Linked DNA regions of Homo sapiens. The protein of the gene in region 4 purifies or fractionates together with the protein of the main gene of each other region. This does not show direct contact. Each region holds a gene or a part of one and is shown on either strand. Other genes may lie near its edges. The genes, in order: SMC1A, PRMT2, DNM3 and THRB.

What was found.
Region 1: the proteins of THRB (region 4) and SMC1A purify together in Homo sapiens (affinity purification with mass spectrometry, with the first as the bait; one study listed by BioGRID). This does not show direct contact.
Region 2: the proteins of THRB (region 4) and PRMT2 purify together in Homo sapiens (pull-down; one study listed by IntAct). This does not show direct contact.
Region 3: the proteins of THRB (region 4) and DNM3 purify together in Homo sapiens (affinity purification with mass spectrometry; one large-scale study listed by BioGRID and IntAct). This does not show direct contact.

What each region holds. Positions count from the first base shown.
Region 1 is NC_000023.11:53,416,026-53,422,395, forward strand, and holds part of SMC1A (structural maintenance of chromosomes protein 1A), read right to left. Parts: intron 6,016-6,370; exon of another isoform or gene 5,913-6,015; coding exon of another isoform or gene 5,870-5,912; intron 1-5,869. UniProt on the Homo sapiens protein: Involved in chromosome cohesion during cell cycle and in DNA repair. Central component of cohesin complex. The cohesin complex is required for the cohesion of sister chromatids after DNA replication.
Region 2 is NC_000021.9:46,661,405-46,667,250, reverse strand, and holds the end of PRMT2 (protein arginine N-methyltransferase 2), read right to left. Parts: intron 5,452-5,846; coding exon 5,315-5,451; intron 3,869-5,314; coding exon 3,697-3,868; intron 2,957-3,696; coding exon 2,924-2,956; coding exon of another isoform or gene 2,877-2,923; 3' UTR 2,127-2,876; downstream 1-2,126. UniProt on the Homo sapiens protein: Arginine methyltransferase that methylates the guanidino nitrogens of arginyl residues in proteins such as STAT3, FBL, histone H4. Acts as a coactivator (with NCOA2) of the androgen receptor (AR)-mediated transactivation.
Region 3 is NC_000001.11:172,386,018-172,392,387, reverse strand, and holds part of DNM3 (dynamin-3), read right to left. Parts: intron 5,256-6,370; coding exon 5,029-5,255; intron 3,816-5,028; coding exon 3,579-3,815; intron 1-3,578. UniProt on the Homo sapiens protein: Microtubule-associated force-producing protein involved in producing microtubule bundles and able to bind and hydrolyze GTP. Most probably involved in vesicular trafficking processes, in particular endocytosis.
Region 4 is NC_000003.12:24,140,856-24,147,225, forward strand, and holds part of THRB (thyroid hormone receptor beta), read right to left. Parts: intron 5,968-6,370; coding exon 5,820-5,967; intron 2,852-5,819; coding exon 2,646-2,851; intron 1-2,645.

The DNA.
Region 1 (6,370 bases), on a different chromosome or scaffold from region 4:
GCATGGTGGCTCACGCCTGTAATCCCAGCACTTTGGGAGGCTGAGGCAGGTGGATCACCTGAGGTCAGGAGTTCAAGACCAGCCTGACCAATATGGTGAAACCCTGTCTCTACTAAAAAATACAAAACTTAGCTGGGCGTGGTGGCGGGCGCCTGTAATCCCAGCTACTTGGAAGGCTGAGGCAGGAGAATCGCTTGAACCTGGGAGGTGGAGGCTGCAGTGAGCCAAGATCGTGCCACTGCACTCCAGCCTGGGCAACAGAGTAAGACTCCATCTCAAAAAAAAAAAATAAAATAAAATAAAATAATAATAATAATAATAATGTAAAGTAAAATTTAAAAATAGGCTGGGAGGAGGGGAAAATGGGAGGTTTTTTTTTCTTTTGAGATGGAGTCTTGCTCTGTTGCCAGGCTGGAGTGCAGTGGCGTGATCTCAGCTCACCACAACCTCCGACTCCCTGGTTCAAGGGATTCTCCCACCTCAGCCTCCCGAATAGCTGGGATTACAGGCACACATCACCACACCCAGCTAACTTTCTGTATTTTTAGTAGAGACAGGGTTTCACCATGTTGGCCAGGATGGTCTCGATCTTCTGACCTTGTGATTCGCCCACCTCGGCCTCCCAAAGTGCTGGGATTACAGGCATGAGCCACCACGCCTGGCCTGGGAGTTGTTTTTTAATGGGCATAGATTTTCATTTTTGCAAGATGAAAAAGTTCTAGAGATCGTTTGCACAAAAACGTGAATATATTTAACACTACTGAACTGCACACTTAAAAATGGTTAATTTAGGAAATTTTATGTGTATTTTACCACCATCTAAAAAAAGTGCATATTCCTGTTGTGAAACAATATGAAACACACAGCATCATTTATGATGTATCTTACCAAAAATATTTAACCTGAATCTATTTTTTTCCTTTTTTTAATTTTTTGTTATAATAAAGACAAGGTCTCGCTGTGTTGCCCAGGCTAGTCTTGAACTCCTGGCCTCAAGTGATCCTCCCGCCGTGGCCTCCCAAAGTGCTGGGATTACAGGCATGAGCCACCATATCCAGCCTAATCTGAATCTAAACAAGCCTTCAGACTTATCTTCCAGTTCCTAGGAAATACAGCAATACAATATAGAGGAACATAGTAAGGTTTTCATGAGGAAATCTTAACACAAACACAGAATGTGGGATGTTCTCAAAGACAAATGGCCTGGTCTTTTCAAAAAGTCAGTGTCTAAAAAGAAAGGGTGAGCCGGGCACGGTGGCTCACGCCTGTTATCCCAGCACTTTGGGTGGCCGAGGCGGGCGGATCACCTGAGGTTGGGGAGTTCCAGACCAGCCTGACTAACATGGAGAAACCTCGTCTCTACTAAAAATACAAAATTAGCTGGGCATGGTGGCACATGCCTGTAATCCCAGCTACTCAGGAGGCTGAGGCAGGAGACTCGCTTGAACCTGGGAGGCAAAGGTTGCGGTGAGCCAAGATCACGCCATTGCACTCCAGCCTGGGCAACAAGAGCAAAACTCCATCTCAAAAAAAAAAAAAAAAAAAAAGTGAGCGAACCATTCCAAAACATGAGAGATTTCTGAGACATAGGTAAACAGTGCACAAACTTTGACTGGACTCTGGTTCCAAAATAACAAAAAGACATTTGGGGAGCAAGTTAAGGAAGCTTAAATATAAACTGGATAATTGATGACATGAGGAAATTTTCTTAGTTGTGATAACTGAATAGTGGTAGTACAGGAGAATGATGATTTTAAGAGGTGAATGCTGAAGCACTTAGGGGTGAAATGTAATTGAGTCTGTAATTTACTTCCAAATGACTAAGTAATGCACATATATGCTTGCAAATTTTCATAATAAAACTTGGGAGAAGAGAAGGCATAGGAAACAAATATATGAAAACGTAAACAGTGCAGCAGTGATTGCCTCTGAAAAGGAAACTAAGCAGCTAGGGTCAAGGGAGTCTTCTTTTTACTACTGTATATCCTTAAGGATTTTTAAAATTGTATACCATGTACATGTACCAGCTATTCAAATAAATAAGGTTTTCAACATTAACAGTGGCTATCTTTTCAGTAGTGGAGTTACAGCTTTTACTTTGTTCATTTTAGAATCCGAAAACAAAAAAGGTTTCATTTACTTATTTTATTTATTTTTTGAGATGGAGTCTCGCTCTATCGCCCACGCTAGATTGCACCTACCAAGTTCAAGTGATTCTCCTGCCTCAGTCTCCTGAATAGCTGGGACGACAAGCGTGTGCCACCACACCTAGTTAATTTTTGTATTTTTAGTAGAGATGGGGTTTCATCATGTTAGCCAGGCTGGTCTCGAATTCCTGACCTCAAGTGATCCACCCACCTCGGTCTCCTAAAGTGCTGGGATTACAGGCATAAGCTACCACGCCCAGACCTTATTCATTTATTTATTGAGACAGGGTCTGACTCTGTCACCCAGGCTGGAGTGCAGTAGCAGTATCACAGCTCTCTGCAGCCTTGACCTCCTTGGCTCAAGTGATCCTCCTGTCTCAGCCTCCCAAGTAGCGGGAAGCATGGGCATAAGCCACCATGCCCAGCTAGTTTTTGGATTTTTGCAGAAGCAGGGTCTCCCTATGTTGCCTAGGCTGGTCTCAAACTCCTGAGCTCCAGAGATCCTCCACCTTGGACTCCCAAAGTGCTGGGGTTACAGGCATGAGCCACCGTTCCTGGCCAAAAAATAGATATTGTTTTAAAAGTTTAGGCCGGGTGCAGTGGCTCATGACTGTAATCCCAGCACTTTGAAAGGCCGAGGCAGGCGGATCACCTGAGGTCAGGAGTTTGAGACCAGCCTGGCCAACATGGTGAAACCCCGTCCCTACTAAAAATACAAAAATTAGCCAGGCACGGTTGTGTGCCTATAATCCCAGCTACTCGGGAGGCTGAGGCACGAGAATCGCTTAAACCCAGGAGGTGGAGGTTACAGTGAGCTGAGATCGCGCCACTGCACTCCAACCTGGGCGACAGAGAGAGACTCTGTCTCAAAAAAAAAAAAAAAAAAAAAAAAGTTTAGTCGGGCTGGTGGATAAGGAGGAACAGTTTAGTCTCTATAATTTCTATCTCAAGACTGTCCCTAAAGAACTTATATATGACTTTGAACTGAAGATCTGATTTCCAACACCTTTCTACTCAGCCATAAAAACAGCAGCCCAAGTCCTTCCATAGAGACGGTATAAGACTATGATTAGGTTGGACACGGCATCTCACGCCTGTAATCCCAGCACTCTGGGAAGCAGACGTGGGTGGATCACTTGACCTCGGGAGTTTGAGACCAGCCTGGACAACATGGCAAAATCCCATCTCTACAAAAAATACAAAAATTGGCTCGGCATGGTGGCACACTCCAGTTGTCCTGACTACTGGGAAGGCTGAGATGGGAGGGTTGCTTGAGCCCGAGAAGTTGAGGCTGCAGTGAGCCATGATTGTGCCACTGTATGCCAGCCTTGGTGACAGAGCAAGACCCTGACTCCAAAAAAAAAAAAAATAGGCCAGGCGCGGTGGCTCACACCTGTAATCGCAGCACTTTGGGAGGCCCAGGTGGGCAGATCACGGGGTCAGGAGTTTGAGACCAGCCTGAACAACGTGGTGAAACCCCGTCTCTACTAAAAATACAAAAACTGGCCGGGCATAGTGGTGCACGCCTGTAATCCCAGCTCCTCAGGAGGCTGAGGCAGGAGAATAGCTTGAACCCGGGAGGCAGAGGTTGCAGTGAGCTGAGATCACGCCACTGCACTCCAGCCTGGGCGACAGAGAAAGACTTCATCTCAAAAAAAAAAAAAAGAAAAAAAAGAAAAGAATCACTTGAACCCAGCAGGCAGAAGTTGCAGTGAGCCGAGGTCATGCCACTGCACTCCAGTGTGGGCGTCAGAGTGAGACTCCATCTAAAAAAGCTTGCAAACTTGGGCTTAGAACCAACAGACCAGGTTCTAATCTTACTTTCACTACCACTTAGCTGACCTTCCATTCCCTCACCTGGAAAAAGATGAAAAAAACCACAATTCACGGGTCTAAAAATATGTGCGGCACATACTTCTCTATTGGAGTGGCAGGAGCACAGGCATGGGTTCTGAGAACCACGGACAAGTTATCACACCTCTGTGCCTTAGTCTCCTCATGTATAAAACGAAGCTATTGGCATTTTCCTCCTAGGGTCATTTTGAGAATTTAATTGTAAAGGGTCCCTTGGCTGGGTGCAGTGGCTCATGCCTGTAATCCCAGCACTTTGGGAGGCTGAGGCAGGCAGATCACTTGAGCCCAGGAGTTTGAGACCAGCCTGGCCAACTGGGAGAAACACCAACTCTACTAAAAATACAAGAACTAGCCAGATGGGGTGGCGCACGCCTGTAGTCCCAGCTACTTGGGAGGCTGAGGCACGAGAATCACTTGAACCCAAGAGGCAGAGGTTGCAGTGAGCCAACATCATGCCACTGCACTCCAGCCTGGACAACAGAGCAAGACTGTCTCAAAAAAAAAAAAAAAGAAAAGAAAAAGAAAAAGAAAAAACAGGGTCCCAATAAATAAAGTACTTGACACACAGAGTAGGTACTCAATTAATTAGTCCTATCCTAAGTCTGGACTCAGCTGTCTCCCTCATCACAGCAGGACTAGCACATCATGCAGACCAGGAGTCAGCCTTTTAGGAACCAATATCCAACCTTTGGGCTTCTCCCATCATTTCCAGGGAGGACAACATCATCTCACAACCCCAAGCCTCTCTAATCACAATCAATATGGTAAACATTTTTGTAATATATATTATGGACTGAACACCAGTAAAACGTTTCAAGGAATGTCTGCTTTAGGGTACTCACAGGCCAATGAAGATACAAAAACATGCACCATCAATATAGGACTTAATAAACATTAACGTGTACCAAGTGTCTACGGTATGCCACAGAGGAAGACTCACTCACCAAAGGGACTAAAGGAATGGCTTGTAGAGGTGGGCCTTGAAGAACGGGGGCAAGTGGGGGAGTGCCATAGCCCTTTTCAGAACAGCTGGGAATACAAATCTACTAATGCTGAGGGGACTGAATGCCAAGAGGTACATCCTAGCTCTTCCAACAGGGGCCACTACACTAAAACCCGAGGAAACTGGGTGGACACCAAGCATTAGCCCTCCAGGCCAGTGGTTCTCAAACAAGTTGGGGGGTTGGGGGAATCACACACACCCTCTGTGACATCTAGCAATGTCTAGAGACAGTTTTGATTGTCATGCCTGGGGAGCAGGGGTGCTACTGTTATCTAGCAGGTAGATGCCAGAGATGCTGTTAAACATCCTACAATGCACAGAGCACATCCCACAGCAAAGGATTATCTCGCTGGAAATGTCAATAGTGCCACTGTTGAGACACTCAGTCTCCAGGAAAGGTACTCAGTATGTGCTACTTCAGCAAGGGCAGCCTCTTAGGCTAGGATATCATTCAGCTAGAACATCTCTGGGGTGGAAGAATACAGCAGGATTCCAAATGGACATCTGAGGTGAGAGGAATCCACGGTGTATCGTTTAGAGTTGGGAAGACACAAAATAGAGGCTTTACCTGACCACCCTTTCTAAAGACACCACCTAAGTCACTTTATCACATCCACCTGTCTCATTTCCTGTATAGCACTTATGACAGCCTAAAACCATCTTATTTTCTCCTTATCTTCTTTCCCCTCTGGAATATAAGTTCCCTGTGAGCATGGAGTTGGTTTATTCTATTCTCCGCTGTTTCCACAACTTGCAACTGAATAACTCCTGATAAACAATAAGCATTCAACAAATTTGGTAAATTAGTTAATTTCGGCTTTTGACGGTTTCGGTGGTAGGAAAAGGGCGAGTTCGAGGCAACTACCTCTGACATAGCGGTGGGGGGTGGGGATCGACACCTCAAGCATTCTAAAGACTGGAGCGCTGGGTCTGAAATTCAAAAGTGCCGCCTCCAGAGAAGAGTAGAAAGGAGTTGGAGTGTACCAATGCGAGGCGAGAGAGGACGCTGGGCTGAAACAGAAGTGCACCGTTTGGGACCGAAGGCCACGGGAGAGCTACCAGCGTCCCCACATTCTCCGGAGGGGGTCAAGTAAGGCTGGGAAGCCGGCTCCGGCCGGTCCGGCGGGGAGCCGCGCGGCGGAGGACTGAGCTGGCGGGAAGCTGGTTCCAGACGCGACTCCTTTGGCGGGAGGGGGAAGTAGGCGGGGTAACTGGCAGCTCGGCCTGTACCACTGGGCCGGGGCGGGGGCCGCGCAGGAAGCGGCAAGTGACACCTGGAAGGGGTTCGAGTTAGAGCACCCGCGCGGGGAGAGTGGGTTCGAGCAGAACCCCCTCTGGACGGGCAAGGAACCCGTAAGGGTCCGCG
Region 2 (5,846 bases), on a different chromosome or scaffold from region 4:
CAGAGCCCGCCAGGCGCACAGAGCCCTCTGCATCATTGCTCACCTGCATCACGGCTTTTAGGCCCAGATGCCAACAAAGTTAGAATCCAAGTGAGCATCTGGGCCCCCAGTGATTACAAAGCTGAGCAGTTAAGTACAAAGTCATGCCTGTCTTTTGTGCTCTGTCACCCAGGCTGGAGTGCAGTGACGTGATCTCGGCTCATGGCAACCTCCGCCTCCCGGGTTCAAGTGATTCTCCTGCCTCAGCCTCCTGAGTAGCTGGGATTACAGGCATGCACCACCACACTCGGCTAATTTTTGTATTTTTAGTAGAGACGGGGTTTCATCATGTTGGCCAGGCTGGTCTCGAACTCCTGACCTCAGGCGATCTGCCCGCCTCCGCCTCCCAAGTAGCTGGGACTACAGGTGTGCACCATCATACCCAGCTAGTTTTTAAGTTTTTTGTAGAGGCAAGGTCTTGTTGTGTTGCCCAGGCTGGTCTCAAACTCTTAGGCTCAAGTAATCCTCCTCCCTTGGCCTCCTGAAGCACTGGGATTACAAGCACGAGCCACCACATTTGGATGAGATGCCTTTTCTAATAACCATGTATGAAACTGCACCCAGACCACCAGCCTCCATGTCCATGACAGAAAATCCTGACACAGGCTGGGCACTGTGGCTCACGCCTGTAATCCCAGTACTTTGGGAGGCCAAGGTGGGCAGATCACCTGAGGTCAGGAGTTTGAGACCAGCCTGGCCAACATGGTGAAACCCCGTCTCTACAAAAATACAAAAATTAGCCAGGTGTGGTGGTGCATGCCTGTAATCCCAGCTACTTGGAAGGCTGAGGTAGGAGAATCGCTTGAACCCGGGAGGCAGAGGTTGCAATGAGCTGAGATCACGCCACTGCAGTCCAGCCTGGGCAACAGAGTAAGACGCCGTCTCGAAGAAAAAAAAAAAAAAGAAAATACTGACACAGCTTCTTCACAGCTTGATGCTTGATTAAAAAAAAAAAAAAAAAAAAAAAAAAAAAAAAGCCACAGAAAGGGAAAAGATTTATTCACAAAAATATATGTGTTACAGGACTCAGCCAAATTATATCAGGAACACCTGGAATCTCAATTAGAAATAGAAAAAAAAAAACCCTAATAGTAAAATGGGCCAAAGACTTAAACAAGCACCTCAAAAACAGGATATCCAAAATGAGCGGCAAATCTACAAAACTGGATTAGTCATCAATGAAATGTATACCAAATCCACACGCCCACCAGAGCAGGTAAAATGCAAAACACAATACTGGGTGTTGACGAGGATGCCAACTCTCATGCACAGCTGGCAGGGATATTAGATTCCTTGACTTGAAAACCTGGTATACAGTGTACACCCAACAGAAATGTGTACATACATGCACCAAAACACATACACAGAAATGTCCACAGTCTCAGTAATCATCATAGCTAAACCATGGCAACAACCCAAAAGGACACCATGTGAAACAAGATCATAAACTGTGGTCTATTCATGCAGTTGAATACTATGCCACAATGAAAAAGTCAACCACAACCACACTGTCTAAAATTCATAGATGAGTCTCACAAACAATGTTTAATTAAAGAAGGCAGACACAAAAGAACACGTGTACAACTCCATTCAGGCAAGAGTAATCGACAGTTACAAGTCAGGACATCACCCTTGAGAGGGTGGGCACTGAGTGGAAGGGGAATCGGGGAATCTGTAGTGTGTCCTGGCCTGGATGCTGGTTACATGTGCGTCCACTTTATAAAATGCCATCATCTATGTACCCATGACTAGCACTGTTTTCAATATATATTTGATATTTCAGTTTTGTTTTTTGGGGTTTTTGAGACAGGGTCTTGCTCTGTCACCCACGCTGGAGTGCAGCAGTGCAATCCTAGATCACTGCAGCCTCAACCTCCTGGGCTCAAGTGATCCCCCCGCCTCAGCCTCCCGAGTAGCTGGGACTACAGGCACACGCCACCATGCCCAGCTAATTTTTCTATTTTTTTTGTAGAGATAGTATCTCGCTGTGTTGCCCAGGGTGGTCTTGAACTCCTGAGCTCAAGGAATCATCCCACCTCAGCCTCTCAAAGTGTTGGGATTACAGAGGTAAGCCACTGCACCCAGCCTATATTTCAATAAAATTTAATAAAAATCAAAACAATACAAAAAAAAATTATGGACATGTATCTACTGATGTGGAAGTTTTTTCACAATATTGAGAAAAACTTATAAAGCAATGCATATAGTATGATCCTGTAATTACAAAAAATAACATATATGCATAAAACAGGATACACAATGACATTCACTCATTTAAAAATATTTATTGAGCATGTGCGATGGACCAACACATAATTTATTTGGAAGACGTCTACACAACTGTACTATCCCATGCAGAGTCCCATCGCATACATCACCACCTTAGCTCGCACGCTGAGCCAGGGCAGTGTTCCCTACACGCCACTGGCACAGCCCTGTGCAATCCTACGTCCCACACGAGTGGATGAGCGACGGCAGTAAGGGCACCACTAACATAGGAGGTGGGGACAGTCACTGTCACAGGGTACACGGGCTGATATGCGTGCGTCCTAGGAGTGTAGACCTAGACCTAGCTTAGGAACATGGAGCTCCGACCCAGCCACGGGTCGGCACTGTGGGCACCACGGGTGAACACCTGGAAACACAGCCTACTTCTAGAGGGCAGACACTGGGCAGCGGGGGTGGCCACGGCAGCTCCTGCCGAGCCCAAGCGTGTTTGTCTGTGAAGGACCCTGACGTCACCTGCCAGGCTAGGGAGGGGTCAATGTGGAGTGAATGTTCACCGACTTTCGCAGGAGTGTGCAGAAGCCAGGTGCAACTTGGTTTGCTTGTGTTCATCACCCCTCAAGATATGCACACTGCTTTCCAAATAAAGCATCAACTGTCATCTCCAGATGGGGAAGACTTTTTCTCCAACCTGAAAAAGATAAATGACAACAGGTCAATCAGATGATAAATCATTTGATTAACATACTACATTTCCTAATGGTTTAATATTGGACAAGAGAACAGTATTCAGGTGCAGAATTTTTTTAAATGACAAACTTTTAACAAAAACTTATCACAAAGCAAAGCACAAAACAAATATAAAAAATGAAGGAAAACCATTTATTTTTATTTTCTTTGCCACATTAATCCTGAGCCCAAAGAAGAACATTCCATTTTCAGCAGCCTCTGAGACAGGAAGCCCAAGTGAGCTGGGCGAGCTACACATGAATTCACACACGGATCCGAAGGCTGCCAGTCAGAACACGCATCACAGACGACACGCCTAGACTAACTGCTGCCTGGGAAGCCACAGAGGCCTGTGTAAAGGGAGCGCCAAGGCACAGCTCAGGCTTCTGTCCATCTGGGGGACCCTCTGGACATGGCACAAGGGGCCTCAGGCTGATGTGGGTCTCTGCTCTCCCTCACTTACCGTGTCACCTGAGGGAATGACTTCCCTGACTTCCCTTCCAGAGCCCTCCACTTCCCGTGCTGTCAGATGGGAAATGAAGCCAATGACAACAGGCGCTTTCTGTGTAAGGATTAAATCACTCCTGCACAAAAGGCGTGGACCCCAGTGTGGGCCAGCATCTGCCATCACTACCACCACCCAGGCCTGTCTCCCTGAGGACCGGCACCCACAGGACAGAATCTTACAACTACGTATCTTACTTTTTGAGATGTGGGGTCTTGTCTGGAAGTGACAGCCCAGCTCAGAGCCACAGACATGTGCCTTCTCCACACTGGGTTTCTCTGCAACACAACTGAACCCGTGACCACGTCTCCTGTATGGACAGGGACTGGGTCGTCCATCATGAACAGCGTCTGCTTCCAGTGTGTGGTGCTGCAAGACAGGGGTGCGTGTGACCTGGAGGCTGAGCTAGGGCAGTCTCCACATGGCCCTCGGGGCGCTGACTCAGGCTCGCACTGGCTCTCGCCCCCAACAGCACCCACACAGCCGGCAGTCCACCCTGAGGGCCTGGGGACACAAAGCTTGGCTTTTCAGGCTAACTCAGGGAACATATACACCCCCAGCCCTGTGATCTAAAGGGACTCTATGGGATACACTGGGATCAAAGTTACGCTAGTGAGACAGATCCTGCCAATGCCAAACACAAGCTTGCTCCTGAGACCACTCAGATTCCAGGAGGTGTGGACGGCTCACCCTGGGTGGCCCAGAGGATGCGGGAGCTCAGGGGACACACAGCTGCACTAAAGGTCCCGTGTGGTGTCGACTCCCCGGCCCGCCAGGAGGACGGCTGTGCAACCCCTTCCTGCACCCTTGCCTAAGCTGCAGAGGCTGGTGATCTAGCTCCTGCTGTTAAACTGTGGTGTACACAGACAGAATCAGGTCCAAGGAGTCGCTTCTGTGAAGGTTACAAGGTGAGGACAACTGTCACATTTGGGGGGAAATAGTAAAACGCTATGATTCTGCACTGGGTTGCGTTGGAAACATCTCTAAGTTCCTCAGGCTCTGTCTTCCCTCAAACTCCCACTGTCCACGGTGGGGCCAGCAGTGAAGTGGGGGGCTCCTCAGGTCTCCAGTTTTTCCCTGACTCTGGTCACACCCCTCACCCCAGCCTGTGCCCCAGGTCACTGCCCCCTCCACGCCCCCAGACTCGGGGATGGGTATAACTGGCCTCCAAGCTGCCCACCTCCACCCGGTGATGGCACTGGAGGGGCCACCACAGGACTCTTGTGATGGGGACCACATGCCAGGCCAGGCCATCAACCCCGCACCTCTGCGACCTCCCTGGAGCCGGGGTCCCCTCGCGGGGCCACCACGCTGGGAAGTCAGCGGGGCAGGTGCCAGAGCGGGGTAGCCAACCCCACCCAAAGGGAAGGCCTGCAGGGCCCTGAAGGCAGCTCCACTGCCACACATGCCCAGGGTGCTGGCGGGGAAATGTGTCCCAAAAAACAGGCACCTCCAAAAACGTCAGGTGAACCCCGACGCCCCGTGGAGGCGCTTTGGGTCAGACCATGAAGAGCTGTGGTGCTCCTCGCGGGGTGGAAGACAGGGAGCTCCTCCCGTTGGGGCTGTTGTCGGAGGGACGCCCAGGCTGGGCCCAGAGTGGTGGCGAGACCCGGAAGGGGGCACACAGGCTGCGGTGTCTACACCACCCGTGCCCCCATGCGCGCCGCCCCCACCCCACTGCCCGCGCCCCCACGTGCCCCACCCCCCCACGACCGCCACGCCGCGTCCCACCCCCTCCTGCGCGCCCCATCCCCGCACCCCGCCTACTCCCCTGCCCCCCACCCCGCACCCCGTGCCCGCGCCCCGCACACTCACGGGTGGAAGGGCCCGGTGCTGAGCACCTGCGGCGGCTGCCCCTCCTGCAGGCTCTGGAAGTGGACGCTAAACCAGGCCGTGAAGCCGTGCAGGGTCCCCGCCTTCCTGATGTCGAAGCGCAGCTCGCCCCTCAGGGTCTGGGTCAAGCAGATGACAAGGCACGCGTGGGCACCGCGTGGCACCGCAGGGCCCGGGTTGGGGCGGCCCCCTCCACGCGCCCCGCGCAGACGCTGAATGCGTCAGGAACCGTAGAAAAGCCCCCCAGCCTGGGGAAACCACCCCCAAAACCCGCATCGTGAGTTCAGAGGCTTCAGTCAGAAACGTTTCAAGCATCTGAGCTTCTTGCGCCCAATTTTCTACCCCAGATTCTGCGGAATCTTTTCGGCGCTCAGCTCTTCCAGTTAAGGAGTTGGAGAGCTCCAGGCTGGGCCTTTCCACAGCAGAACGAACTAAAAACCAAAGCGCGCCGGCGCCACCGCGCCCGCCCCATCTCCAGACGCGGCGCCAGCTGGGGCGCCAGGCAGGGCGGGGG
Region 3 (6,370 bases), on a different chromosome or scaffold from region 4:
AGAGAAGTTGAGTGGAGGTGAGAGGGGAGGTGACAATCCAGATATTCTGGCAATAGAAAATGTTCCACAAATCACTGATTTGTGTATACTCAAGTTACCAATGACAGAAGCATACATACTAGTGAATCTCTTTGGGATAGAGATGCTTCTCTAGTTCAAGTGGAATTAATTAAAACAGGCATGTAGTTTGCAATATTTCCAGCTCCCTAACTGAAAGGCTCCATGCACATAAACCAGAACAGCTTGAGCAGCTGAGAAAAGCTGGGCCAAAAATGACTCCACCACCTCTCTCCTTCCTCTCCTTTTATATTGGAATGGAAAGATACAATAATATATATTTTTTAAAAGCAGAACACTCATGGTTTCTGTACAATTGCAAGTGTGCTTTGATTACCTTTGAATGGCGTTAACATAAAAGTATATATGCTCTTAAAAGTCAAGATCATAACTTGCTAATGAAGTCGTGAATTATCCAGAAGAAAACTATGCACAAGCCCATGCTGAATGGCAGAATCTCTTGTCTCTAAAAGTTCAGTTATTGCCTTTGTAATATTAAAGCCCAACAGGGAGCTGGCGGGACACCTTTTGTGCTGTCTTGTCATGTTATAGGTTTCTGGTTTCAGATACAAGAGGAGAAAGGACCCTTAAGAAAGTAAAAAACTTGAAAAAAAAAATCAAACTTCCTTCTCTGAAAACAAAGGGTTGTTTTCCCAGAGATGATGGATAATGGCATTTCAACTTTCTAAGTTTTTGATAGAGAAAATGGAGGCAAAGCACAGAGGGGAAATAGAATATATTAAACAAACAGAATAAGGTGAAGTTTCAACAAGCGCTTCTCTCAATTTCTTTCTTTCTCTCGTTCTCTCTTCCTTTCTTTTTTTGAAATCTTAAACCCCATTTCTGGCTTGTATTTGGTAGGATTCCTGCTCTGGCTTTTATTAAAAACAGACTTTATGTGGTCAGAACTCTCCATCTAAAGCTGGATTTAACAGGCATGGGGATCCTGACAGAGTCTTTCTTGCCCTCTCTCAGGTGACCACCCCTCCCCCAGCCCCCTTCCCCGGGATTTCCCTCCCAAAGCGCTGAACCAGCACAGAAACTTGAAGGCTCAGCACAAAACAACAAACTTTCCTCTTTTACCCTGTACTTTCATTTCTGTTTTAAATTTGGGACTCTTTGCATGGCCAGATCAAGTAAAGTCTGGTTCTAACTTGAGAGTATTCTAGAAATTTCAAATAAGGCAACTGTCATCCTATAAATTCCCTAATGTAGTCTCATTAAGCCCTGCTGCCCATGTGCCGGCCATCCAGCTCGGGCTACTCATTCTCATCCGGCTGCCTTGTTCGTGCGAGCTGGAAAATACTAACGGCAACTCCACCCTGCTTAACAAGTCAGCTTAGCATTCAAAAGTTGATTTTTCTGAAGGGTACTGGCAAGCTAGCTCATCTGAAACCCACAGGTAAAGCAGTCAAGCAAGCAGGCAGAACATGCATGTTCATTCCCCAGGACAGGCACCACCAGTTTGCTCTGGTTTTTTCTCACAGCTAGACAGACAAAAGTAGCTCCTGCATGGCACTCCAGCCTTCCCACTCTCAACTCTTCCTCTTCCAATGGCCTCAATACCTTCCTGGTACAATGGCAGACACTTTCCTAGTCAATTTGAGGTTTTCTAAAATAATAAATTGGATCTTGCTTGTAGCAAGGCTCAATGCGGAAATTCATGGTTTTACATGGAAGGGAATTCTTTTGAATACTACAGTGCAGTGGTTCTCACGTGGAGAGGAATTTTACTCCCCTAAGGGACATTGGGAGTGTCTACAGATATTTTTAGTGGTCACAACTGGGGACTGCAACTGAAATCTAGAGGGTAGAGGGGAGGGATGCTGCTAAACATCTTACAATACACAGGACAGCCCTCCACAACAAAAACGTCAGTACTGATGAGGCTGAAAAACCCTGGGGTCATGGTCAGGAAATGGCTTTGGAAGCAGACTGCATGGGATTAAAGTCCAGCTCCACTAGGGACTGGCTGAGCAGCCTTGGGCAAGCTGTTTAACCTCACTGCCTCATCTGTAAAATGTGGATAACAACCTATTTGTTGTGAGCTTTAAACAAAAATGTATATACAAAGTTCTTAGGGCAATGCCTAGTAATATTGAGGGCACAATAAATGTTGGCTATTGCTAGTACTGCTATTACTAGAAATTTAGCACCATTCCAAATAATTTATAAGCCAAGTCTATTGAATTTAGAGAAAAAAAATTGGATTGAGAGTGTGTATATATCCTCTTTGCTTAGGACCAAAATGATAACAGTGGTAACAACTGTAGTCTTTACAGTGTATCAAACTCTTTCAAATACCTCATGTCATATGATCTGGGGAACAACCTTATTGAGTTCTCCCTGTTTCATAGATAAAGAACTCCCGTCTCAGAGTTAAATGAGTTGCCCAAGACCTTCAGTAACCCAGGTCTTCTGACTGCAAATCTCCTGCCTATTCTTGCTGTACCACCCTCTGTGTACTAGCTTAAGATCCCCCTTCTTCTCTTCTCTTCATTACGCTTAACAACTTGAAGATTAAAATAAAACGTAAGTGCCATAATCAGTTGGCAAGGTGGCTCAGGCTTCAGGGATGGGTAGAAGTCACATCTGTTTTTATGGTTCATATACAGTCAGATATTCCTTCATGGAGTATATAAATATTTTAATTCTCTGAATTGAATTTTTTAAAAATTAACTTTATATATGGGCTAATTTTCTTTCCTCTTTATATTTCTGATTTTGAGGGGGAAAAAAACCTTAGTACTTTATACCTTAAAAATCTCTGATTCTATTCATTGTGTATATTTTGACTGTAAGTATATGAAGGTGAGACTACAGCTCCAACTATGTGTGTTTCTAGGTCCATTATTTATTAGCTATATTGTTTCACAATTAAGCCTGAAAATCCACTTATAATTGTCAACACGTATTATTCAGATGTACAATGATCTATCTTATATATGATTAGTGACTGTATACAACAATCATGCCTATATTAAAATTTCTATGTGTAGTTTTTAAAAAAACAATTGCAGATCAATCAGCCAGATTTATTCAGCCTATATGAAAATTGGTAAAATTGAGTATAAGGATCACAGTTCAGAAGGCAGATGGATAAAATTCTCTAAGTCAGTGGTTTTCAAGAATTCTTTTGATAATGGAGAAGGCAAGACTTTAGTCCATGGAACTCTCATGACCTATAGAACACACAGCTTGCTACAATCCTCCATAGCTCTTTTGTTTCAAAGCCCTCAAATTCTCCCAATAGCTGCCAAAATGTCATTCATTGGGACGGAGTGTTCTTTAGTCCTATTTAGTCTGTGCCAATTGATAAATGAGAAATTTCAATGATCACAAGTGATTTTTAAATGGCATAACAGGGTTGGCAATTTTCCTATAGTCTCTGTTCATTGTGAAAACTGCAAACACGTACGATAAGATCTTTGCAATTTTCTCTTTCAAATAAATTTTGTCTGTCATTCTATGAGAAGAGAACCAAGGCGCACTACCCCCCCAATTTCTGCTCCATGCCTTACCTTGGGACACTGGGCGGGGCCCTCGTAGGCCTAGATGGAACTTGTGGAGGGGCTCCGAAGGAGTCACTGCTGCTGGGGAAAGGAGGTAATGGGCCTGGACGGAATGGGACTGGAGGAGCCCCAGAGTGGGGGCCAGGAGAGGGAATGGCAGGAGCTGGTCCTCGGCCGGATGTGGGCCTTGCGAGGGGAGCACTTAGTGTTGGCCTCCTTTGGGTTGTGGGGCTTGGAGGAGGTGACCTGAGGAAAAAGAGAAATCATAGTTTGCTCACTCCTCCTTTCTGTCTGAATTAATCTCTAAAAATGTTTTGTAACTTCCTGCTTTTTAAAAATTATTTTTTGACTGAATAAGTCCAATTCATGTCATGAAAGTCAAAGGGATAAAAGGGTAAATGGAGAAAAGTAAGTTTTCCTCTCCCTACCCCTTCACTCTGTTGAAACAACTATAGAAGTTTCTTGTGCATCCTTTTTAACTGTATTCTACATTTGTATAAGTATATATTTTCTCTCTCTATATATAAATTGCTTTTCTGTATACCATAGAACACAGTCTTCTACAACCTCCTTTTTTTTTTCTTTGAGGCGGAGTCTCGCTCTGTCACCCAGGCTGGAGTGCAGTGGCGTGATCTCGGCTCACTGCAACCTCTGACTCCTGAATTCAAGCGATTCTCCTGCCTCAGCCTCCCGAGTAGCTGGGATCACAGGTGTGCGCCACCACCCCCAGCTAATTTTTGTATTTTTAGTAGGGACAGGGTTTCACTATGTTGGCCAGCCTGGTCTCAAACTCCTGACCTTAGGTGATCCGCTTGCCTCGGCCTCCCAAAGTGCTGGGAATACAGGCGTGAGCCACCGCGCCTGGCATACAACCTCCCTTTTTTTTAAAGCTTCCCGTTAACTGGATTATCTTTTCATTTTAGGACTTAATAGAACTGTCTTGTTCTTTTTAGTGACTATATAACATTCCATTGTGAGGATGCACTGTGCTGCATTTTTAAGGGAGTTAGTATAATCTGATCCTTACTCCTGAATGTAAATATCTTTTCCCCTTTTTCTGTAGGTCCATCTTGGTTTAGGAAAGCACTCTCAGAAAATGATATTGGACAAGCGTGGCAGGGCTCAGGGGTTGTGGGTGGGTCCATCTTCTTTTTTTTTTTTGAGACGGAGTCTTGCTCTGTCACCCAGGCTGGAGTGCAGTGCACGATCTCGGCTCACTGCAAGCTCTGCCTCCCGGGTTCACACCATTCTCCTGCCTCAGCCTCCCGAGTAGCTGGGACTACAGGCACCCGCCACCACGCCCGGCTAATTTTTTTTATGTTTTTAGTAGAGACAGGGTTTCACTATGTTCGCCAGGATGGTCTCGATCTCCTGACCTCGTGATCCGCCCGCCTCGGCCTCTCAAAGTGCTGGGATTACAGGAGCGAGCCACCGCACCCGGCCGGGGCCATCTTCTTACCTGCGAGAGTGCTGTATCCAGGAGTCATCCACTGGAGGGGGTGCCGGAGTGGACACGGTGGCTGTGCTGATGTCCCCAATTATCCCAAGGGCTTCTTTCAGTGCTTGATACATTCGAAGCATCTCATCCCGGCGCTGAGCCTGCTCAGCAGATTCCTCCATCAGGGTATTTTGGTCCTCTGAAGAATACAACTGTGCTAGGAGCTCGGAATTTATGAAATCTTTAACCTGTCAGATCACCACAGAGAAATAAAAATGGGAATAAATGAGTGACTGAGTGGAGGTAGAAACATGGCTGTGGCAGTCAGAGTCTGGACAAAGTCCACCAAAGTCCACCAAAGTCCACCCTGGGAAAAGTGAAGCACCAAGCGTCTGTTTACTTTTGTTTTGTCTCTATCCCCAGTACTGGTGACAGTAACAGTTTCCCTCTGTCTTTTGGCTGTCCACACTGAAGGATGATAGAGATGAGTAGAAGAAGGCCAAACCCAGCCATCACCAGAACAGGGCCTGCTGGCTTTGTGAGCATTTCACAATATTGTCTGGAGCTGTTTGGCTTATAGAAGAGGGAAGGTACTATGAGGTAAGAAGCAGTATTTTCAACAGAAAACAGTGATGTGAAGAAACCTATGTAATCACACGTTTTCCATTCCTTGGCATTCGCAGTCCTTTCCCTAGCTTTTACCAAAATCACTGGAAAATTATTGAGATGCCAAGTTTCAGTGTCGTCTCAAAAGTGAAATTAGCACCAGTAAGTGAATATTTATTAAATACAGAATCTTATATAACTATGCAGGTTGATTTATAAACAAGTGAAAGAGATGCACTCTGTTTTCCAGAAGTTTACAATAGAAGTTAGTTAACAGTGATGGGGACTGACATGAGGTTGCATAGTTAGCTAATATATAAAAACAAACTAAAGTATGAACACTATGTGGGAGTCTCAGGGGGAGGGGCATTTTGTTGCAGGATGAAAATGGAGAGGATGAATATGGTGCACAACACTGAGAGTGGGAACGCCAGCTACTGTATCTCATCAACTCTAAGACACCAGTGATTTTAAGAAACACTACTATCATATGTGCTGACTATTCAGACAAAAAAAAAATACCATCAATCAAACTTTGACAGGATGTCAAGATGCCATTGAGTATAAGATGCATCTTCATTTCAGAAATATTAAATAAAAAGAAGTGAATGTGAGAATCGATGAAGTATGGTATATACCAAGTGGCTTCATAAGTTATATGACAATTCTTATCACACACTGAAGAAACATGTATTAGTATTCCAGTTTTATAGATACAGAAACAAGTTCCAAGAATTTAAGTATCTTGTGCTAGGTC
Region 4 (6,370 bases):
TTCCATCACACATAGCATAGATACTCAAGTGTGGAGGCTGAATGGAACATTGTTCTCCTGTGAAGAGATGCAGGGGTTATCCCAGGCACAGAAGGGGATTGGCTGACAGAAATGAAGTTCATTGTAGAGACAGACAGGACAGTGGAAGAGTCCTGATCCTTCCCAATAACCCTCTAGGGAAAAATGGCTCGGAGAAGCAGTTATTTACATTTGAATCAAGATGGACAATTTCTTGAGCAGATTAAAGATCTACAAAAGATACATTTCATGTCAGCCCTACAAGGAGAATAAAACTCTCTTGTGCATGGGTAATCTCATGGTTCTGACAGAAGCCTAATGGCAAATCATTCTGTGCCATAGATTCTTTCCATAGATGGTCAGGCTGGTGAACTGTTAGGAGCCTTTAAGTGAACAGTGCAGACCTCAAGACTGGTTCTAATGACTAGATATTGTGACCACACAGCACGAAGATATTTGATTATATTTTGCTTTATAGAGGTGGTTTCTCTGCTTCCAGACATAGCACAACGTCATCTCCTCAGAGATGCTTCTTCTGACCACCATGTTCACAGAAATGAAGTCTCTCCCCACTTCCAGTTCACAAACTCTTCATCCCATCACACTGTTTATTGCCTTCATTGCACTTACCACTACCTGCATTTATTTTGTTTGTTTATCTCTTATTATCTGCCTCCCACTAGAGGAATGTGCCTGACTTATTTACTTTCTGGCACATAGTATCCACTCAATAAATGTTTCTTAAATAAAGGAACAAATCTTTAAAGTCTGGAAAGAAGCACCTTATGACTACTTAAACAAGTTTAGTTGGACTAGTATCCCTTCTCTATGGGGAGTAAAGACAATAAAAGTATAAAATTCCCGGGAGAAGTCCAGGATGAACTTCAAATCTTCTACCTTACTTGGAATTCAGCTTGGTCACGACTTGAAATCAGGAGACAGTGCCAGGCCTGGAAGTGGTTTCTACAATGTCCATTTATGGGTGACACATTTGGGGAAAGGATGGATTTAAGTTTGCAATTAGGTAGGACTCTGTCTTGCTATGCCCCAAGTGTACTGTGTTAGAATTTGTCTATCAATCCAGAATTAGTGCTTTTGAATTTTCTGGCAGATATACCAGGGTGGGGTGAAGATGCAAGATCAAGGCACTGAGAGGCTGCTCCTCCAAAGAGCTGGGATCTTTCAGAGGCTTTTTGGGTTTGTGCAGGTGCCAAGATTGCATAGGGTAGTGGATAGAGACATAAATCCCGGAGCTGGCTGCATCCATCACCACTGTTTACCAGTTGTGGGAGCTCAGGCAAGTTTCCTCAACTTCTGTGTCTTACTTCTCTCTTCTGTAAAATGGAGATATTAACCACATCTACCTACAGGATTGGTATAGGAAGTTAATGAATGAAAAGCACTTAGAATAGTACCTGGCATATGGTAAAGGCCATCTAGGTATTTGCTGACATTGCTGTTAGTGAAAGCCATCAACAAAGTGCTGGCACTATTGTTTCATTACAACGAAAGTAATTGTGTCAGTACAGGTGAATTATGTATAAGCCTTTTCTTTCCAAAACTTCCTTTAAGGTTGTTGTTATGTTGTTTTAAGAAAAAGATCCACTATCTCATTGTAATGTTAATGTTGAGGTACAAGGATAATTATACCACTATATCTTCTTGTTCAGATGGGGAAGTACTCTAATGTGTCCTAGGGATACAAATGAAACCACAGAATATCTGTTGTCAGGTAGGTACTTGAAAAGGGTTTTATATCATAAACTAAGAGCAGAGTCAGTCTCTGAGATGGTCCAGCACTAGTAGGGCACGTAGTCTTTCTAATGAGGTGGGTGGAGAGCCTGGACTTGGAACCAGAAGACCGAGTTGGTTTTGGTGCCTGGCTTTTAGCAGTGCGATCCTGGGCAAGCGGCTTAAGGCCTTGGGCTTGGTTTGCATGTCTGTAAAATGGGGATAGTAATTCCAGCTTACCTCAAAACACTATGAAGTCTGAATAAAAAATGAATGGGAAGAATTTTCACAACTGGTAATTTTTATAAGAATATTAAACATCAATATTGCAAGGGTCTGGAAGGTCTTTTTTCTCTACACACTCGTGCCCACCAACCCTATCCCTACTCCCTCATTCCCATTGCCCTTCTTGAGTCAAGCTCATTTAATTTAAGCTAAAAAATTTTGACTTCTGTTGACATAAAAATATACTTGAGGCCTAGAGGCTATTATAAAGGGAATATTTGGGATTGAGTTCAGGGACTAAATATGTATATACTGGGCATCTAAGGAAAGAAATGGGTATAGAAAGTAAAAGATGGCAGACAAAACATTTTACTAATTAGTTGGTCTGGGAGTGGTCTTTCTAACAGTAAAAGCAAACTGATATAATGTGGCCTAAGAAACTGTTTTAGAATTCAGCAAATCACAAAGTAGATGGTAGGAGTGGCCTTTATTCTCACACAGACCTAGACTCAAATCCTAGCTTTGCAAGTTACTCAGCCTCTCAGAGCTACGGTTTCCCTATCAGTAAAATGAGGCAATAACACCAGTATCCCAAGGTGATGAGGACTGAATAAATTGAGGTAGAAAACACTGGCATATAAGTGAAACTGATCTGTGCAAGGAAGCCTTACCAGGAATTTCCGTTTTTGCTTCCAGTGGCTGCCTTGGGCGTTGGTCGCCACATGGGCTTCGGTGACAGTTTTGATGAGCTCCCATTCCTCGTCTGTGGGCTCTGGCTTGTGCCCGATGGACTTCTGCAGCTCTTCCCGCCGTCTTTTCTCCCGGTTCTCCTCTATCAGCTTCCTCTTGGCCAGCCTCTTGCTGTCATCCAGCACCACTGGGAGGGGGAGAAAGATGAGACAAGGCACACAGATGCTCCCAAGATACACAGCAAGCTGCACTTCCTGGAGCCTCAGGAGTGGGACCACTGATGCACAGATGGCTTACTGGGTCCTTCGGGGTGGGTCACACTGGGACAGTTTCTCTCCTCACCAGCAAACTGCCATTGACTAGTCTTGTCCAACATGGTCTCTAGAGCCAAACTCCCCATGACCGGCCAGCTTTTCAAAACAAAGTCCCCAGAGAACCTAGACACTGCGCACTCCAACTCCACAGAAGGTGGTTCTAAAACAGAGTGAAGCAGAGAGGTAAAATCCATACTACCCACAAGATCACAGAGAAATCTGTCCAGCCAGTCATCCGAATTCACTCTCTGGGTTTCTGTCCTCCCCGCTTCCCCTAAAACGGCTCTTAGTAAAGAGAACTTCAGGTTAAAGAAACGTTATGGAATTAAAAAAAGAAACGTTATGGAGCAGTAAGTGGGAGGCTCGTGATCCCTTTTTTTAAGAGGAAAAAGGACCCCAACTCTTCATGGCTCCCTTAAGGGCTAATTGGAATGTGGCTGGGCCTCACCTGGGCCTCAAGGTACTCACTGTACATTATTCTCTACCTGGTCCACCCTCAAGGGTGGTTAAAGAGTCCAGGCTTTGGAATCTAGAAAGACTTGGGTTTGAATTCTGATATTATTACATTCTAGCTGTGTGACCTCTGGCAAGTTCCTTAGGTTCTCTGAGCTTTCATTTCTTCCTATACAAAATGGGCTCAATAATACCCACTTCACAGAGTATTCAATGTGATAATGCATTATAAGTGCTCAGTAAATGCAGTCCTGACTTCTATCATTTGGGTGAAAGGAAAATCAGAAGGGCAGGTAACAAGAAACCTATATTTCTGTGGTCAATTTCCAAAACCAAAACCGTTTCACTAGACTTGGTAACTATCAATGGAATGGAAAGGCTCAGGTTTTACATTGCAGAGTCATAGTATTTTAGAACTGGAAGGGAACTTAGACGTCATCTAGTCCTACTCTGTCTTTTCACAGAAAGAAGAAGAAATTGATCCAGAGAGGTCGTGACTTGCCTAAAGTCACAGAGCAAGTTAATGGCAGAGCCAAGGCAAGACCCAGGACTCCTGACTCCAGTTCTACGACATCACTGTCCTAGGGCCATTTCTTGATGAAGGTGTGACCTGGTAGGAAAAGAAAAAAAGCAGACATAGCAAGAGAAGGAGAACCAAGGTGCCTAGCTAGTCTCCCATTTAAATATTCTAATTTAAAGAGAATATTAAATTCCAGACCATTTAGATTTGATTGGATTGTCAAAGTCATGTGAGCGCTTACAAATGAGGAAAATATGAATGAGCCCTGTTAAGTCATTTTGGTTCAGTTACTAAAGGGAAAGGAGGAATGGTAATAATACCCTCAACCCCTTCCCAAATGCTTCCGGTGTGCCAGGGACTGTTGTATTTGATGAACATTATCTAATTTAATCTTGAAAACAACTCTACAAGGTAGGCAATGATTTCACAGAAGGAAAATCTCAGCTTAATTCCAAAGGTCACACAGCTAGTAAGTGACAGATCTGGGACTCGAACAGAAGTTTTTCTGATTAGAAAGCCTGAGCTCTTAGAATCCCTCACAAGCAAGTAAAGGGCACTCAAAATTTATTTCCATACAGTCTAGATTAACACTGAGTTTTTAAACCTCATAGACACTAGTATCTTAAACTTCTCAATAGAACACTGAAATAGATAATCAATAATAAGTTTGTCATAGTGGCATATCTAAGTATTTGGCTGTAAGTCAATCATATTCACATATCCCTATCAGGCATATTGTTGGCAAGGGCTAAAGGCCTTTAAGAGATAAAGATAAAGAAAATACTCAGCCAGAGGTGGGGATTAACCCAGGATTTCCAGCCTAACACTCTAACATAACCCTCTTCCTTTTTAAAGATTCTCCATTCCTTCTTCTTTAATGGGCAAACCAGAACATTTCACAGATTTTTTTTTCTCAGTGAAAGAACTCTATTTCTCACATAAAATGTGAGTCATGATTACTTCTTTCATCAGGAAAAATCCTCACTGTATTTTCTTTTTTCTTTCTTCATTTTTTATCTTTCTTTTTCTTTTTAATTTTTAACTAATAGTTGGAATCTCTCACTGATGTGCAAAAAATTTATGCCAGTAGAATCATTAATACTGATGCCTGGCAAAAGGGAGGCCACACATTCTGAATGACATGATTCTTATTTTTATGATTAGATTAATTAAAGTGACTGGTGTAAATCCCTCGCACAGTGTGGGGAGAAGAGACCCCAAGGGCTAATCTCGCCACCATATGCTGTAGCACTTTGAAAACTGGGTAGGACGACTTCAGCTCGGAATGTCTTTATTGCTAAAAATATAACAAACAACCAACTGCAGGATGACTCATGCAATAGCACTCAACTTTGCATTCTTCAGAAATTTCTGAACACGATGTTTTCTGCCAGCGCCCCATCTCCAAAAATGTCCATAAAATAAATTCCTGTCTTTGCTCTTGAAAAAATATTAGGACTAGTCCCTGAGGCTCTACCCCATGTGAACACTGTGTATAGAATGATACCTTATCAAGGTAAATGGACCAGACCTCTCATTTGTAATCTCTGTCTCAAACAGAGTGTTGCTAACAACTAGGCCTGCAAATGTGATAGGGATAATTTAACTGCATTTCCTCCTCCATCATCCATACTTTGACAGTTAGGAGGTGGTATGACAGGGTAGGATGGAACCCACCCAGCAATGGCTCCCACCTCCCTTTCAGGGCAAGCCTGGATGTGGGGAGTGAGGGGTGTATGCGAAAGTAAGGTATTCCCTTCTCTGTCTTCTTGGGTTCCTGCCTTCTTTTCTGCCCAGTCGATCTCCTTGAACCAAACTGTTTCCTAATCAACATTCCTTGAATATGAAGCAAGTGAAGATCTACTTACAATCTGTTGCCATGCCAACATAGATGCATTTCTTAAAGCGACATTCCTGGCACTGATTTCGCGTGACTTTGTCTATGACACATTTTCCTTCATATTTACAGGAATAGGATGGATGGAGATTTTTCTGAATGGTTCTTCTAAAGAAACCCTATATGAAAAACAAAGACCCAAGACAACAGTTTCATATTTTCTTGAAATCAGTGATTCTGGAATTTTGTGTCCATATAACTATGAGATGAATCGTTTTGGACCTTAACCTGTTTCTAGGCCTCTAGCTCCACATATTCAAATATAAGACAGTTGGCCCAGAAGGATCTAGAGAGTTCTAAATCTGAGCTGATGATGCCATAGGACTACAGAGTCAACACCTTTTTTTTTGGTCTTTATTCAAGGAAAAGAGGCTAGTAGGAACATCTAGCGCTTGTTTTTATTTTTTCTAAATATTGAATATATAAGTAAATTATACTGTTCTATTTCATATACTGACATAATTGTGTTGCTAAATTAAGCTATGAGGAGTTTTGCTACTTTATACTGAGTAATAAGAGAGC